2 separate regions of the Homo sapiens genome follow, and region 2 is linked to region 1. The links come from fine-mapping of genetic effects on gene expression. Tissue or cell type: whole blood. Region 1 holds a variant in brackets; the other region holds the start of a gene. All regions are shown on one strand. Distances are between the middles of the regions.

Region 1 (7,828 bases):
CAGCTACCCTGACAAGTGATTATTCTTATGACGATTTTGCAGAGAAGAAAATTGCGTCTGGGCCGAGTCGATACGATCACAAGTTGGCGGGGCAGAGATTCGAACCCACATCTAAGGACGAGCTCTGGGCCTGACTGGTCCGCACCGCGTCCCTGCATCAGTAACGAGGGGTCGACGCCTCCAGGGCCAGCGTTCCAGAGCTCCGGCCCGAACCGCCCACCGCGTACGGGCGTCACCTGGAATGTCTAATGCCGACGTTGTACCCTCACGAAAACCCCATCTGAGAAGGGGAAACCGAGGATTCATCGCAAGGCCAGAAGGTGGCCTCTCGCCGCCGGACCCCGGCGCCCGCACGCTCCCCTAGAACCGCTTCCTCCCCAGCCAGCGCAGGCCAGGGTCCAGCCGCGTTGCCGCGGAAACCGCCTCCCAGCACCACCCGCGGCAGTTAAGCCAACGCATGCGCAGCCGCGGGGGGCGCCCGGGGGCGGGGTGCCGATGAGAAGCCGCCGGGGGCTGCCGGGTACTTTTCTGTCCAGAAACTCGACGCCGTCCTGCCCCAGCCCAGCCCGACCCCCGTTTTCCTGTACCTGTTGGTAAGAGAATCGCTGCTGCTCCTCGGTCTCCGCCTCCTCCTCCATCACTGCGGGCCGACCCTGGGCAAACGCAGGAGGGCCGAGAAGGGGCGGTGGTGCGCGGCCAGGTCGGATTTTCCCGCCGCGGCGCGAGCGACGGGCCGCGCGGGCGGACAAAGTACGCAGCTCCGCCCTGCCTCGCGCGCCCCCTGGCGGCGCTCCGTTGAGGGGATTCCGCCGTCGGCCTCCAGCCAGCCCCCTGCTCAGCTTGCTCTGCGGAGGTGGCCGGGCGACGCGGGGACATGACCACCGAGGTCACTGCTGCACCCCAGAGCCTGATTCAGCGCCTGGCACAACGCTGAGCACCACTCTCCGCGAAACACGTGTGCGCATAGGTGCAAAGCGTGTTCCAGTCGGGTGTAGAGGATGCGTAGCCCACGATTTACAGATCATGTAACGCAGTACACATTATCAGGAGCTCCATGCACCTGTACCTCAGGTGTATCTTGCAAAATCGACCATCAACTTTATCATTCTATCACCAACAATAGCGTCACAAAGACTACAATGAGTGAACGACCCGTGACCTCATTCAGCGAGTGGAACAGGAACTGCGTTGTTGCCATTGGCAGGAGTATAGTTCTGACACAAGTGTTACTGTTTTTCCTTTATGTTAACGATGAAGTGAGACCATCAAACCCAATTTTGGTTTGTTTTTATTGTAGTTTTTTGAGAGGCAGGGTCTCACTCTGCCGCCCAGGCTGGAGTGCAGTGGCACCACCAAGACTCACTGTAACCTCCACCTCCTGGGCTCAGGTGATCCTCCCACTTCAGCCTCCCAAGTAGCTGGGACCACAAGCCTGCATCAGCGCACCTGGCTAATTTTTATTTTTTGTAGAGACCAGGTCTCACTATGTTGCCCAGGCTGGTATCAAACTCCTGGCTTCAAACAATCATCCCACCTCAGCCTCCCAAAGTGCTGGAATTACAGGTGTGAGCCACCATGCCCTGCCTGTATTTCTAGGTTTTTGTTTTATTATTTTTTATTGCCTATATTTCTGTATTCTGCATTTGTCACAAGCAGGTGCTACTTTCAGAACGAAGGAAAGCACATAAAGCCACTCCTTGTCTTCCTTTCCCAGGGACGTCCCTCAAGTTCCCTAAGCTTGCCAGGGGCTGAAACCCAGATCAAAGCTTTTTGGAGGAATCAGCCTTCTGAGGACTTTCCTCTGCATCTGCTCAGTGGGTGGCATCTGGAAATGACAGGCACTTCTCGCCTCTGTCCACTGCTCTCTGTGGGCATCCCAGTCTACCTGGACAGTCCTCCTGCCCAAGCAGGGCAAGCCTCTGACGGATTCCCCTAATGGGCAGCATGGGGCTGGGCAGGGCAGGCCATCCAGAGTGAGACCAAGCCTGCAGCAGGAGAGAAGGCCGGTCGCTGGTTGGTGAGCAGCCCCATTTAGAGCACACTGTGGCTGCAAAGCCCAGCTCCCTCCCTTGAGCCTGGTGACCCCAAGCAAGTCACAGGACGTGGCCAAGCTTCATGTCCCTTATTTATCAACTGGGGACAGTAGTTCCAACTTCACAGGGCAGGTGTCAGGTTTTAAACAATTGCCTCACATAAGAGCTAAAGAAATTGTAACAATTCGTCCCAGGAAGTTCCTGTGCTTTGTACCTGTGTGTTCCCTCATTTTAAAGCAGTTGCTTCCCAGGATTAAAGAACAGTATTCCAGTGACATGTGTGCAATACAGAGGCACTTAAGAGCCTCAGAGGCTAGGAGCAGTGGCTCATACCTGTAATTCCTGCACTTTGGGAGGCCGAGGCAGGTAGATCACTTGAGGTGAGGAGTTCAAGACCAGCCTGGCCAACATGATGAAACCCTGTCTCTACCAAAAAATACAAAAATTAGCCAGACATGGTGGCACATGCTTGTAATCCTAGCACTTGGGAGGCTAAGGCAGGAGGATTGCTTGAACCCGGGAGGTGAAGGTTGCAGTGAGCTGAGATCGCACCATAGCACTCCAGCCTGGGCAACAGAGCGAGACTCTGTCTCAAAAAAAAAGGTCTGAGAAATAGGTCGAGGGTTGAGGTATTCATTACAGAAAATGGAACTGGGTGTGGTGGTTCAAGCCTGTAATCCCAACACTTAGGGAGACCAAGGCAGGAGGATCACTTGAGCCCAGTTCAAGGCTATGGTGAGCCGTGATTGCCCCACTGTTTTCCAGCCAGGGTGACAGAGGGAGACACTGTCTCTAAAAAAAATAATGAAAAAAGGATATATTAATATTTGGTTGAAACTTACTTGATGAAGAAGTAGCCCTATAATCTGGCCACTAGATGT[C/T]AGTGTTGCACTACAGCGTGAAGCAAGGCCAGGGATGCCCGCTGGCAATGTTGCCATGACACTGAGCACTTTGCACTTGTCCTCGCTCTAGGCACTCATTTAATATCTCATCTGCCCTCAAAAGTAGGTGCTGTTAGCCCCATTTTACATGAGGAAACAGGTGAAAGAACTCTGCCCAAGGCTAAACTACTGGGAAGTGATAGAGACCAGATTTGATTATTAGGCTGGTTTCCGAGTTTCCGGTTTATCCACTGCCCTCACCATAAATAAGACAAAGACCTTGGTGGGTTTCTTTAATCCTTTTCATCTGCATTAAGGAGGGTTCCATAAATATTTAGTTCAGCCGGGCGTGGTGGCTCACGCCTATAATCCCAGCACTTTGGGAGGCCGAGGCAGGCGGATCACCTGAGGTCAGGAGTTCGAGACCAGCCTCAACATGGAGAAACCCTGTCTCTACTAAAAATACAAAATTAGCCAGGCGTAGTGGTGCATGCCTGTAATCCCAGCTACTCGGGAGGCTGAGGCAGGAGAATCGCTTGAACCTGGGAGGCGGAGGTTTTGCGGTGAGCTGAGATCGTGCATTGCACTCCAGCCTGGGCAAACAAGAGCGAAACTTGAAGGGGTGGGTTGCCCCTCCACACCTGTGGGTGTTTCTCGTTAGGTGGAACGAGAGACTTGGAAAAGAAAAAGACACAGAGACAAAGTATAGAGAAAGAAATAAGGGGGCCCAGGGGACCAGCGTTCAGCATATGGAGGATCCCGCCGGCCTGAATTCCCTTAGTATTTATTGATCATTCTTGGGTGTTTCTCGGAGAGGGGGATGTGGCAGGATCATAGGATAATAGTGGAGAGAAGGTCAGCAGATAAACACTTGAACAAAGGTCTCTGCACCATAGATAAGGTAAAGAATTAAGTGCTGTGCTTTAGATATGTGTACACATAAACATCTCAATGCCTTGAAGAGCAGTATTGCTGCCCGCCTGTCCCACCTCCAGCCCTAAGGCGGTTTTCCCCTATCTCAGTAGATGGAACATACAATCGGGTTTTATACTGAGACATTCCATTGCCCAGGGACGGGCAGGAGACAGATGCCTTCCTCTCGTCTCAACTGCAAGAGGCGTTCCTTCCTCTTTTACTAATCCTCCTCAGCACAGACCCTTTACGGGTGTCGGGCTGGGGGACGGTCAGGTCTTTCCCTCCCACGAGGCCATATTTCAGACTATCACATGGGGAGAAACCTTGGACAATACCTGGCTTTCCTAGGCAGAGGTCCCTGCGGCCTTCCGCAGTGTTTCTGTCCCTGGGTACTTGAGATTAGTGAGAGGTGACAGCGTGCTGGCAGTCCTAAAGCCCTCGCTCGCTCTCGGCACCTCCTCTGCCTGGGCTCCTACTTTGGTGGCACTTGAGGAGCCCTTCAGCCCACCGCTGCACTGTGGGAGCCCCTTTCTGGGCTGGCCAAGGCCAGAGCCGGCTCCCTCAGCTTGCAGGGAGGTGTGGAGGGAGAGGCGCAAGCGGGAACCAGGGCTGCGCGCGGCGCTTGCGGGCCAGCTGGAGTTCCGGGTGGGCGTGGGCTTGGCGGGCCCCGCACTCGGAGCAGCCGGCTGGCCCTGCCCGCCCAGGGCAATGAGGGGCTTAGCACCCAGGCCAGCGGCTGCGGAGGGTGTACTGGGTCCCCCAGCAGTGCCAGCCCACCGGCGCTGCACTCGATTTCTCACTGGGCCTTAGCTGCCTTCCTGTGGGGCAGGGCTCGGGACCTGCAGCCCGCCATGCCTGAGCCTCCCACCCACTCCGTGGGCTCCTGTGTGGCCCGAGCCTCCCCGATGAGCGTGGCCCCCTGCTCCACGGCGCCCAGTCCCATCGACCACCCAAGGGCTGGGGAGTGTGGGCGCATGGCGCAGGACTGGCAGGCAGCTCCACCTGCAGCCTGGTGCAGGATCCACTGGGTGAAGCCAGCTGGGCTCCTGAGTCTGGTGGGGAGGAGGAGAACCTTTATGTCTAGCTCAGGGATTATAAATACACCAATCGGCACTCTGTATCTAGCTCAAGGTTTGTAAATACACCAATCAGCACCCTTTGTTTAGCCCAGGGTTTGTGAATGCACCAATCGACACTCTGTATCTAGCTACTCTGGTGGGGCCTTGGAGAACCTTTGTGTCTAGCTCAGGGATTGTAAACGCACCAGTCAGCGCCCTGTCAAAACAGACCACTGGGCTCTACCAATCAGCAGGACGTGGGTGGGGCCAGATAAGAGAATAAAAGCAGGCTGCCCAAGCCAGCAGTGGCAACCCGCTTGGGTTCCCTTCCACGCTGTGGCAGTTTTGTTCTTTGCAATAAATCTTGTTACTGCTCACTCTTTGGGTCCACGCTGCTTTTATGAGCTGTAACACTCACCGCGAAGATCTGCAGCTTCACTCCTGAGCCAGTGAGACCACGAGCCCACGAGAAGGAAGAAACTCCGAACACATCCGAACATCAGAAGGAACAAACTCCAGATGCGCCACCTTAAGAGCTGTAACACTCACCGCGAGGGTCCGCGGCTTCATTCTTGGAGCTAGTGAGACCAAGAACCCACCAATTCCGGACACATTAGGGAGTGGTGATGACTCTTAACGAGCATGCTGCCTTCAAGCGTCTGTTTAACAAAGCACATCTTGCACAGCCCTTAATCCATTTAACCCTGAGTTGACACAGCACATGTTTCGGAGAGCACAGGGTTGGGGGTAAGGTTACAGATTAACAGCATCTCAAGGCAGAAGAATTTCTCTTAGTACAAAACAAAATGGAGTCTCTTATGTCTACTTCTTTCTACACAAACACAGTAACAATCTGATCTTTCTTTTCCCCACAAAACTCCGTCTCAAAAAAAAAAAAAAACTGCACTGTAAAATGTCAATACAAAAATCAATCTTGGCTGGGCGTGGTGGCTCATGCCTGTAATCCCAGCACTTTGGGAGGCCGAGGCGGGTGGATCACCCGAGGTCAGGAGTTTGTGACCAGCCTGGCCAACATGGTGAAACCCCATCTCTACTAAAAATACAAAAATTAGCCAGGCATGGTGGTGCACGCCTGTAATCTCAGCTACTAAGGAGGCTGAGGCAGGAGAATCGCTTGCCCAGGAGGCGGAGGTCGTAGTGAGCCAAGATCATGCCATTGCACTCCAGCCTGGGTGACAGTGAGACTACATCTCAAAAAAAAAAAAAAAAATCAATCTCCATTTCATAGGTTTATTCAAGAGAAGATAAAAATTTAAAAATAATTATCGTTAAATATTATATGTATCCTGTAAGCACATGAGGTCAGGACTTTGGACTTCTCTCACCCCGACAGAGGGTACCTAGCACAATGCTTGGCACATGGTAGGTGTACCATAAACATGCCGAATGACTGAATGAGTGGGGCGATGAACTGTGCACGCCGACAGGTCAGTTTCATGATTAAGTGTATGGACTCTGGCACCAGATCTCTGGGGTTCAATTCCAGTTCTTCAGTAGCTCTGACCTTGGACGAATTACTTAATATCAGTGTGCTTCATCTCTAAATTAGGGATAGTAATAGTGCTTACTTCAGAGGGTGCTGCGAGCATTCAATGAGTTACAGAGCCTGGCATATGCTCTCAATGTTAGCTAGTAGTATATATACTATATGAGACCCTCAGGAAAAGCCCCAAATAGTGCCGGTTCCCAACTCTGCTATGTAACAGATTTTCCTTTTCAGGGGCAGCATATGTGGCAGACTGTAATTTACGAAGATGGCAAGAACAATGTCTCCTGATCCATGTGCTTTTCTAGAACCTCATACTCCCCCATCAAGAGGTAGAGTCTAATCCTCTGCCCCTTGAGTCTGGGGGACTTGCGGCTTGCTTGGAACCGATTTTGGATGGCTATAATCCTGCCATGTAACATTCACAGCTGGGTTTTTAAAAGCCACGTGTGTGCTTCTGCCTCCTTAGTGAGAACCCTGGGCCAACAAACAAGATGTTTCTCTGGCCTGAGGCCATGTGATGAGGCCACATGAACTTTTTCCAGCTCATAGCCCTAGCTGAGGTCCCAGCCAACAGCCAGCATCCACCGCGAGATGAATGAGAGAGGACACTCCACGCCCCCGAGCCATGGTGCCACCCCTGCTCTCGAGTCCTCCTAGCTGAGGCCCCAGACATTGTGGAGCAGACAAGCTGCCTCTGCCTCCCCCGTCCCCCACCATGCTCTTTCCAGATTCATGACCCACAGAATTAGAAGAAAATTTAAATGGTGATTATTTTACACCACTGACTTTGGGGTGGTTTGTTACACACCAGTCCGCAGCAACTGTGACAGCATACAAGATTTAACAGAGTGAGCAGACGCATTCGCCCGCATGCTGAACAGCGTGCTGAAGGCTCCCACCCCTTCCAAAATGATGGGCTCCACATCTGCCTCAAAGAACGTGTAACCCCTGCAAATCCTTCCCTAAAGTCTCTTTGCTTGGCAATCCTTCTGCTTGGCCAGGCATGGTGGCTCGTGCCTGTAATCCCAGCACTTTGAGAGGCTGAGGCGGGTGGATCATTTGAGGTCAGGAGTTCAAGACCAGCCTGGCCAACACGGGGAAACCCTGTCTCTACTAAAATACAAAAATTAGCCGGGCGTAGTGGTGGGCACCTGTAATCCCAGCTATTCAGGAGGTTGAAGCAGGAGAACTGCGTGAACTAGGGAGGTAGAGGTTGCAGTGAGCCGAGATCGCGCCCTGCACTCCAGCTGGGAAACAGAGTGAGACTGTCTCAAAAGTGAAAACAAAACTCCTGTTTCCTTGTCTGACCCTTGTCTGTATAACACACCTTTGTGTCCCCAGTAAAGCAGAGTTGTGGCAGACATCATTAGGGGCCTATAATTTCTACCTCAAAGAAGCCACCAGATCTGTCCCTTTTAGTGGTTAGACTGA
Region 2 (6,414 bases), 27 kb after region 1:
TATTTTTAGTAGAGACGGGTTTTCGCCATGTTAGCCAGGATGGTCTTGATCTCTTGACCTCTTGGTCCACCTGCCTCCGTCTCCCAAAGTGCTGGGATTACAGGTGTGAGCCACCACACCCGGCCCTTCTGTTAAGTGTGTCTTAACAGAAAAAAAGGCTGAGAACTATTGTATCAGTAGTAATCTCAAAAAAATCAGTACCACAGGGCAGTTCACCCTACTGTCACATATGCGATGCTGACACTTTTTTCTAGAATGTTCTCGGAACCTGGAAGAATCTGGACTGAAGAACACTTACTGTGGTGTCCCTATATTCAGAATTTCCTCCGTCAATGATGATGTCACCAGTATCCAACAATGGTACCTGTAACCAGACACCAGCATTAAGATGGACCAAAAATGAAACATACCTTGGCAAATTAAAACAAACAAGAATTTATTCCAAATAAACATAGTCTAAAAAGAGTCTCGTTCTGTTGCCCAGCTTGGAATGCAGGAGTGCGAACATGGCTCACTGAAACCCTGAACTCCTGCAGTGGTGTGAACATGACTCACTGCAACTTTGAACTCCTTGAACCACAATGCCCAGCTAGTTTTAAAATTTTTTTTGTAGGCCAGGCGCGGTGGCTCACGCCTGTTATCCCAGCACTTTGGGAGGCCGAGGTGGGTGGATCATAAGGTCAGGAGATCAAGACCATCCTGGCTAACATGGTGAAACCTCGTCTCTACTAAAAATACGAAAAATTAGCCGGGCGTTGTGGCAGGCGCCTTGTAGTCCCAGCTACTCGGGAGGCTGAGGCAGGAGAATGGCGTGAACCCGGGAGGTGGAGCTTGCAGTGAGCTGAGATCGCAACACTGCACTCCAGCCTGGGGGACAGAGTGAGACCCCGTCTCAAAAAAAAAAAATTTTTTTTGAGATGGAGTCTCACCATGTCGCCCAGGCTGGTCTCAAACTCCTGGGCTAAAAGCCTCCTGGCTTGGCAGGAGGCCAACGCACCCAGCCTACTTAATCTTCAATAATCCTCTCTGTGGCCAGAGCTGCACACTATTTAAAAGTTTAGGGCTGACCAGGCTCAGTGGCTCACACCTGTAATCCCAACACTTTGGGAGGTTGAGGCAGGAGGATCGCTTGAGCCCAGGAATTTGAGACCAGCATGGACAGCATAGCAAGACCCCATTTCTATTTTTAAGTAAGTATACAGATTAAACACTGACTATAATGTGTCTAGAAGAGAGTGGGGATTCAGTAAATACATATCAAATGGTTTAGTGTATGAATGAATGATTTTATGACAACAGTTCGGAGGTCAGGAAGAGACAGAGCCTTGAACATGAATATCTACCTACAGCACACCAACCAGGCTGGGCTTTATTATTATTATTACTTTATTAATTAATTAATTAATTTATTTATTTATTTGAGACGGAGTCTCGCACTGTCACCCAGGCTGCAATGCAGTGGTGTGATCTCGGCTCACTGCAAGCTCTGCCTCCCGGGTTCACGCCACTCTCCTGCCTCAGCCTCCCAAGTAGCTGGGACTACAGGCACCCACCACCACGCCTGGCTAATTTTTTGTATTTTTAGTAGAGATGGGGTTTCACCGTGTTAGCTAGGATGGTCTCGATCTCCTGACCTCATGATCCACCCACCTCTGCCTCCCAAAGTGCTGGGATTACAGGCGTGAGCCACCGCGCCCAGCCTGGGCTTCATTATATTATTCAATCTTCCCCCTACAAGGCTCCAGTTAACATTACTTAGTATTTTCCTATACTGAAGAATAATCCACCATTTTTCAGTTTTCTCTGTCTGAAACTGATTACAGGCAGCTTGCCACACAAAAAATTTAGTATGTCCTTTTTTTAAACTCAGTGTTCTTCCTTTCTAGGTCATTTGATTGAAAAACAGTGGCATACTGGTTACAAATCCTTCTCCCTGTGGAAACAACCCCACTGTTGACACGACTCCTCTAGAAAGGAATGCTCAGCCTCCCCTGAGCTATCACTGCACTGCTTACAGCAAAACATTTCTTCTAAATGGGAGTGCCTGGGTTTTTTCAGAGTTGTTACTATAGAATTATTTTGGGTATCTAAACACATTATTTCCACTGGTTCCCCTACTTTTTTCTTCCAAAAAAGATATACCTGCTAAAGCCAACAAATTGTTTGGTACAAAAATAAGCATCCAGTTCCCTAGGATTCCCTAAGGAGATCTTGATTTTATTTTCATTTTTTTTTTGAGACGGAGTCTCGCTCTGTCGCCAAACTGGAGTGGCACAATCTCAGGTCACTGTAACCTCCACCTCCCAGGTTCAAGTGATTCTCATTCCTCAGCCTCCCGAGTAACTGGGATTACAGGCATGAGCCACAAAGCCCAGCTAATTTTTATATTTTTAGTAGAGACGGGGTTTCACCATGTTGGCCAGGCTGGTCTCGAACCTGGGACCATAAGCTTGTAGCTGGGACCATAAGCTTACACCACCATACCCAGCTAATTTTTTAATTTTATGTAGAGACAGGGTTTCGCCATGTTGCCCAGGCTGGTCTCGAACTCCTGGGCTCAAACGATCCATCTGAACCAGCCTCCCAAAAAGTGCTGGGATTACAGGCCTGAGCCACTGTGCCCCGCCTTAATGTTTATTGAAATGTCTGTTAGTATTCTCAGAATTACTACCACCAAAGGACAAAGTTACTTCATAAGCGCTTATCAAGTTAACCAACACTGCAACAGTTAAGCAATCATTTGGTCAGAGCTTAGCAGAAATTGAAAAAAAAAAATCTCTAGAGTTAAAAGAAGGAGAACTAAAGGAAGAAACCAAAAACAGCTGCTATCGTGGTAGCAGCTGAGAGCACAGCTGGCCTCACCAATTTCTCGATGAAATCATCCACAGCTTGCCCAGCCTTCACCAGGAGGATGATCCGCCGGGGCTTCTTCAGCTTGGAGACCATCTCTTTCAGGGACTGGGCACCCACCACTTTGGTTCCCTTTGCCTCATTGGCCAAGAAATCATCAACTTTGGAGACAGTCCTATTAAAAGCACAGACCTAGAAGGACAAAAGTCCTGAGTAGGAGATCCAGGACACACAAGACTTTCAGACTGTGGCCAAAGTAACAATGACCTTTCCATTCAACCCAAGTTCTGGGGAGGTCAGACCTGCCTTTGCCTTTTCTTCCCCCAGCTGTGGGAGGCTCACTGTAAAGTTATGTCACCTCAGTAGGATGAAAACGGCGGACAACCGAGGCGAAGGCCAACTACCCCCGGTGTGTCAGGTAGAATCCACACCCAACGTGTTAGGACTCAAAATCAAATCCAGGAACTGGCCGGTTCAACAGGCTCTATCTGTTGTTATTGATCATCCTGGCGTCTAAGCCACTTTAACATTTAGAAGAAACATTTTCACTCTCCCCAGATCTCATCAGGCAATCAAGTTAGAGCTCTACACAGCCAGCAAGGGTTCTCCTCCCGCACCCTTCTTCTCTACTTAAGACACTAATTCGTTCATTCGGGCTGTGAACCTCACGGACCCACAGGCACACTCCGCAGGACTAAGTTCGGGATCGGCCCGCCCACGCCTACAGGGTGCTTCTCCTTTCCATACAAAAATGCCACGAGCAGCAACAGAGCACATTAGCAAAGCACGGCCAGGAGACCCGTAAGCTCCCAAACCTATCGCCGGCCTCGGCTAAAGCGCCCGGGAACCAGAGAGAAGACAACGCGCCCACGCCGCTTACCACAAAGCCGTGGTCATTCATGTTCAGAATTAAGTTCTGGCCCATGACGGCCAATCCGATCAGCGCGATGTCAGCTCTAGAGAGGCAGAAACAGAACAAAGGAAAGAGTCAGCACCGCTCGACGCGCTGCAACCCAGGGGTCCGGTCCTTCCACATTTGGCCGTGACTGGGAGTCTGCACTTTCCTCCGCGCCTCCCGCGGGCCCCCAGAAGCCGGGCGCGCACGCTGCAGAGCCTCGGCCGGGCAGGCGGCCCCCAGCCCCGCCCTCGCGCCCGGCTCCCGCTGGCACGCGTCCCGCAGGTGTCCCTGCAGACTCGGCGAGGCCTGGCCGCGCCTCCTCCCTGGCCCTCGAAGGGACCCGCCCCGCCCCATGCCTGCGCGGCCGAGAGGGCAGGGGGCCGGGCCCGCAGGGAAGGAGCTCTGGGCCCGAGACGCCGTAGGGCCAGGGTCACAGAGCCCCAAGTGAGCTCAGGCGACCCCCAGGGTGGGAGGCGTCGGAGAGAACGAGGGAGATCTCGACCCCCAAAGAGTTCCCCGCCCGCTGAGGCCGAGCCGGGCTGCCCCTGGCGAGTCACTCACTGGGCCATGGCGGCGGACAGAGCAGAACCGAAGAGCGGCGACGCGCGGAGGACGAGTGAGGGAAAGACCCGCAGCGGCTCCCTCCAGAAACTGCGGCCGCTCACGCCCGGCTTTTCGGCGCCGGCCAATCGAATGGAAGGGGGTGGAGCCATGAAGCCACACCATTGGCTCTCCCCGACGCCTGTTAGACCATCCGAGGCAAACGTGCCCGCCCACCCCCGGGGGCCGGATCAGTGGAGCGCCGAGCACCTAGATGACATTGCCCCGGCGAGGCTCCGGGCTCCCCGCCCACGCGCAGAGCTTTCCGCTCGTCCCAGCTGCACCTCGGTCCTGCAGGCCGTCCGCCTGGCGCAGCTGTAGCCATAGCAACTCACGCAGGACCGCGCTTTACAGTTTACCAGGCACTCGGACGCCTTTGGCGCGAGCGCCCGTCGCTCCTTCCTCAGGTCACTGCGGTGCACCGTGCGGGTCCGCGTCGTGTCCTCCGCTCCGGAGCAGGGACCGGGCGTGCTCGTTCAGTCCTGTGCGCACTCGGAATGGGGCCGGGGAAGGCTGAGCCTCAGGGCGACCCTGATGTGGAGCCGTGCGACCGCTCACTGCGGTTGAAGAGACCCAGGCGCAGACAGCGCAGGCGGGGTATGTATTGGTTGGAGTATGATGGGGTCAGGACTTGAGTCTTTTACCCAGGCCCGGAGTTAACGGTATTGAACCCCTTCTCATTTTGTAGAGGCTATGTGACCCGCGAGATGGACCAGGTTAAATGCAGAGGCAGATACAAAAAACCAGCCATCTTAAGCCAGACATTTGCAAAGTAGCCAAGCAGCGCTTCTTATCTTACTGAGTCCCTTCTTGCTAGGAGGAAATTGTTATTCAGAAGTTTGAGTTTTAGATTTTTTTTGTTTTTTTTGAGACGGAGTCTCGCACTGTCGCCCGGGCTGGAATGCAGTGGTGTGATCTCAGCTCACTGCACCTTCCGCCTCCCGGGTTCAAGCAATTTTCCTGCCTCAGCCTCCCAAGTAGCTGGGATTACAGGCGCCCGCCACCACGCCCAGCTAATTTTTGTATTTTTAGTAGAGATGGGGTTTCACCATCTTGGCCAGGCTGGTCTCAAACTCCTGACCTCGTGATCCGCCCGCCTTGGCCTCCCAAAGTGCTGAGATTACCGGCGTGAGCCACCGTGCCCGGCCTTTTTTTGATGTCATTGTTGAGATGGAGTCTGGCTGTGTCTCCAGGCTGGAGGGCAGTGGCGCGATCTGGGCTCACTGCAACCTCCACCTCCCAGGTTCAAGCGATTCTCCTGCCTCAGCCTCCCAAGTAGCTGGGACTACAGGTGTGTGCCACCATGCCCAGCTAATGTTTTTATTTTTAGTAGAGACAGGGTTTCACCATGTTGGCCAGGCTGGTCTCGAACTCCTAACCTCAAGTGATCCACCCACCTCAGCCTCCCAAAGTTCTGGGATTAGAGGTGTGAGCCACTGTGCCCGGCCGGTTTTTAATTTTTATAAAGACCAGGTCTTTGCTCTGTTGCCCAGGCTGGAGTGCAGTGGCATGACCATAGCTTACTGCAGCCTTGAACTCCTGAGGTCGAGCAATCTTCTAGCCTCAACTTCCTGAGTAGCTAGGACTACAGGCATGCAACACCATGCCCGGCTAAGACATCCTACTTTAAAATATGTCAAACTTCACAGCACAGTTCTTTTTTTAAAATACAGATTTAATGAGATAATTTACATGTCATACAATTCAAACATTGTAAGTACACATTTGGATGACCTTTAATTTATACTGTTGTGTAGCCATCACCATAATCCACTTATAGAAAACTTCCATCACCCCAAAACGTTCCCTTGGGCCTATTTGTAGTCAGTCTCTGCTCTCACCCCCAGCCAACCTCTGATCTACTTTGCATGGTTTTTGCCTTTTCCAGAAATTTCATAGAAATGGAATAATAGCATATAATTTTTTTGGTCTGGCTTCTTTCACTTAGCATCACGTTTCTGAGGCTCATCTGTGTTGTAGGTATGAGTGGTTTGTTCCTTTTCATTGCTGAGTGGTATTCCATTAATGCAATTGTGTCATCATTTGCTTATCCATTTATCTGTTGA

The links. PIP is the estimated chance that this variant, and not a neighbour inherited with it, causes the effect.
Region 2: PGD starts here. The variant in region 1 is fine-mapped to the expression of PGD in whole blood (TOPMed, PIP above 0.99).

Annotation. Positions count from the first base shown.
Region 1 is chr1:10,423,328-10,431,155 of GRCh38, reverse strand. It overlaps CENPS-CORT (CENPS-CORT readthrough), which reads right to left and starts at 723. Exons shown (of 4, transcript NM_199006.3): 1 at 588-723. The coding sequence starts at 638. It overlaps CENPS (centromere protein S), which reads right to left and starts at 723. Exons shown (of 5, transcript NM_199294.3): 1 at 588-723. The coding sequence starts at 638. RefSeq lists enhancers at 76-125, 4,039-4,644, 4,645-5,250 and silencers at 376-625, 2,790-3,084. The variant C/T (reference allele first, on the strand shown) is at 2,915.
Region 2 is chr1:10,397,021-10,403,434 of GRCh38, reverse strand. It overlaps PGD (phosphogluconate dehydrogenase), which reads right to left and starts at 4,371. Exons shown (of 13, transcript NM_002631.4): 1 at 4,310-4,371; 2 at 3,731-3,806; 3 at 2,863-3,042; 4 at 299-364. The coding sequence starts at 4,317. RefSeq lists silencers at 3,605-3,781, 3,874-4,193 and an enhancer at 4,674-4,983.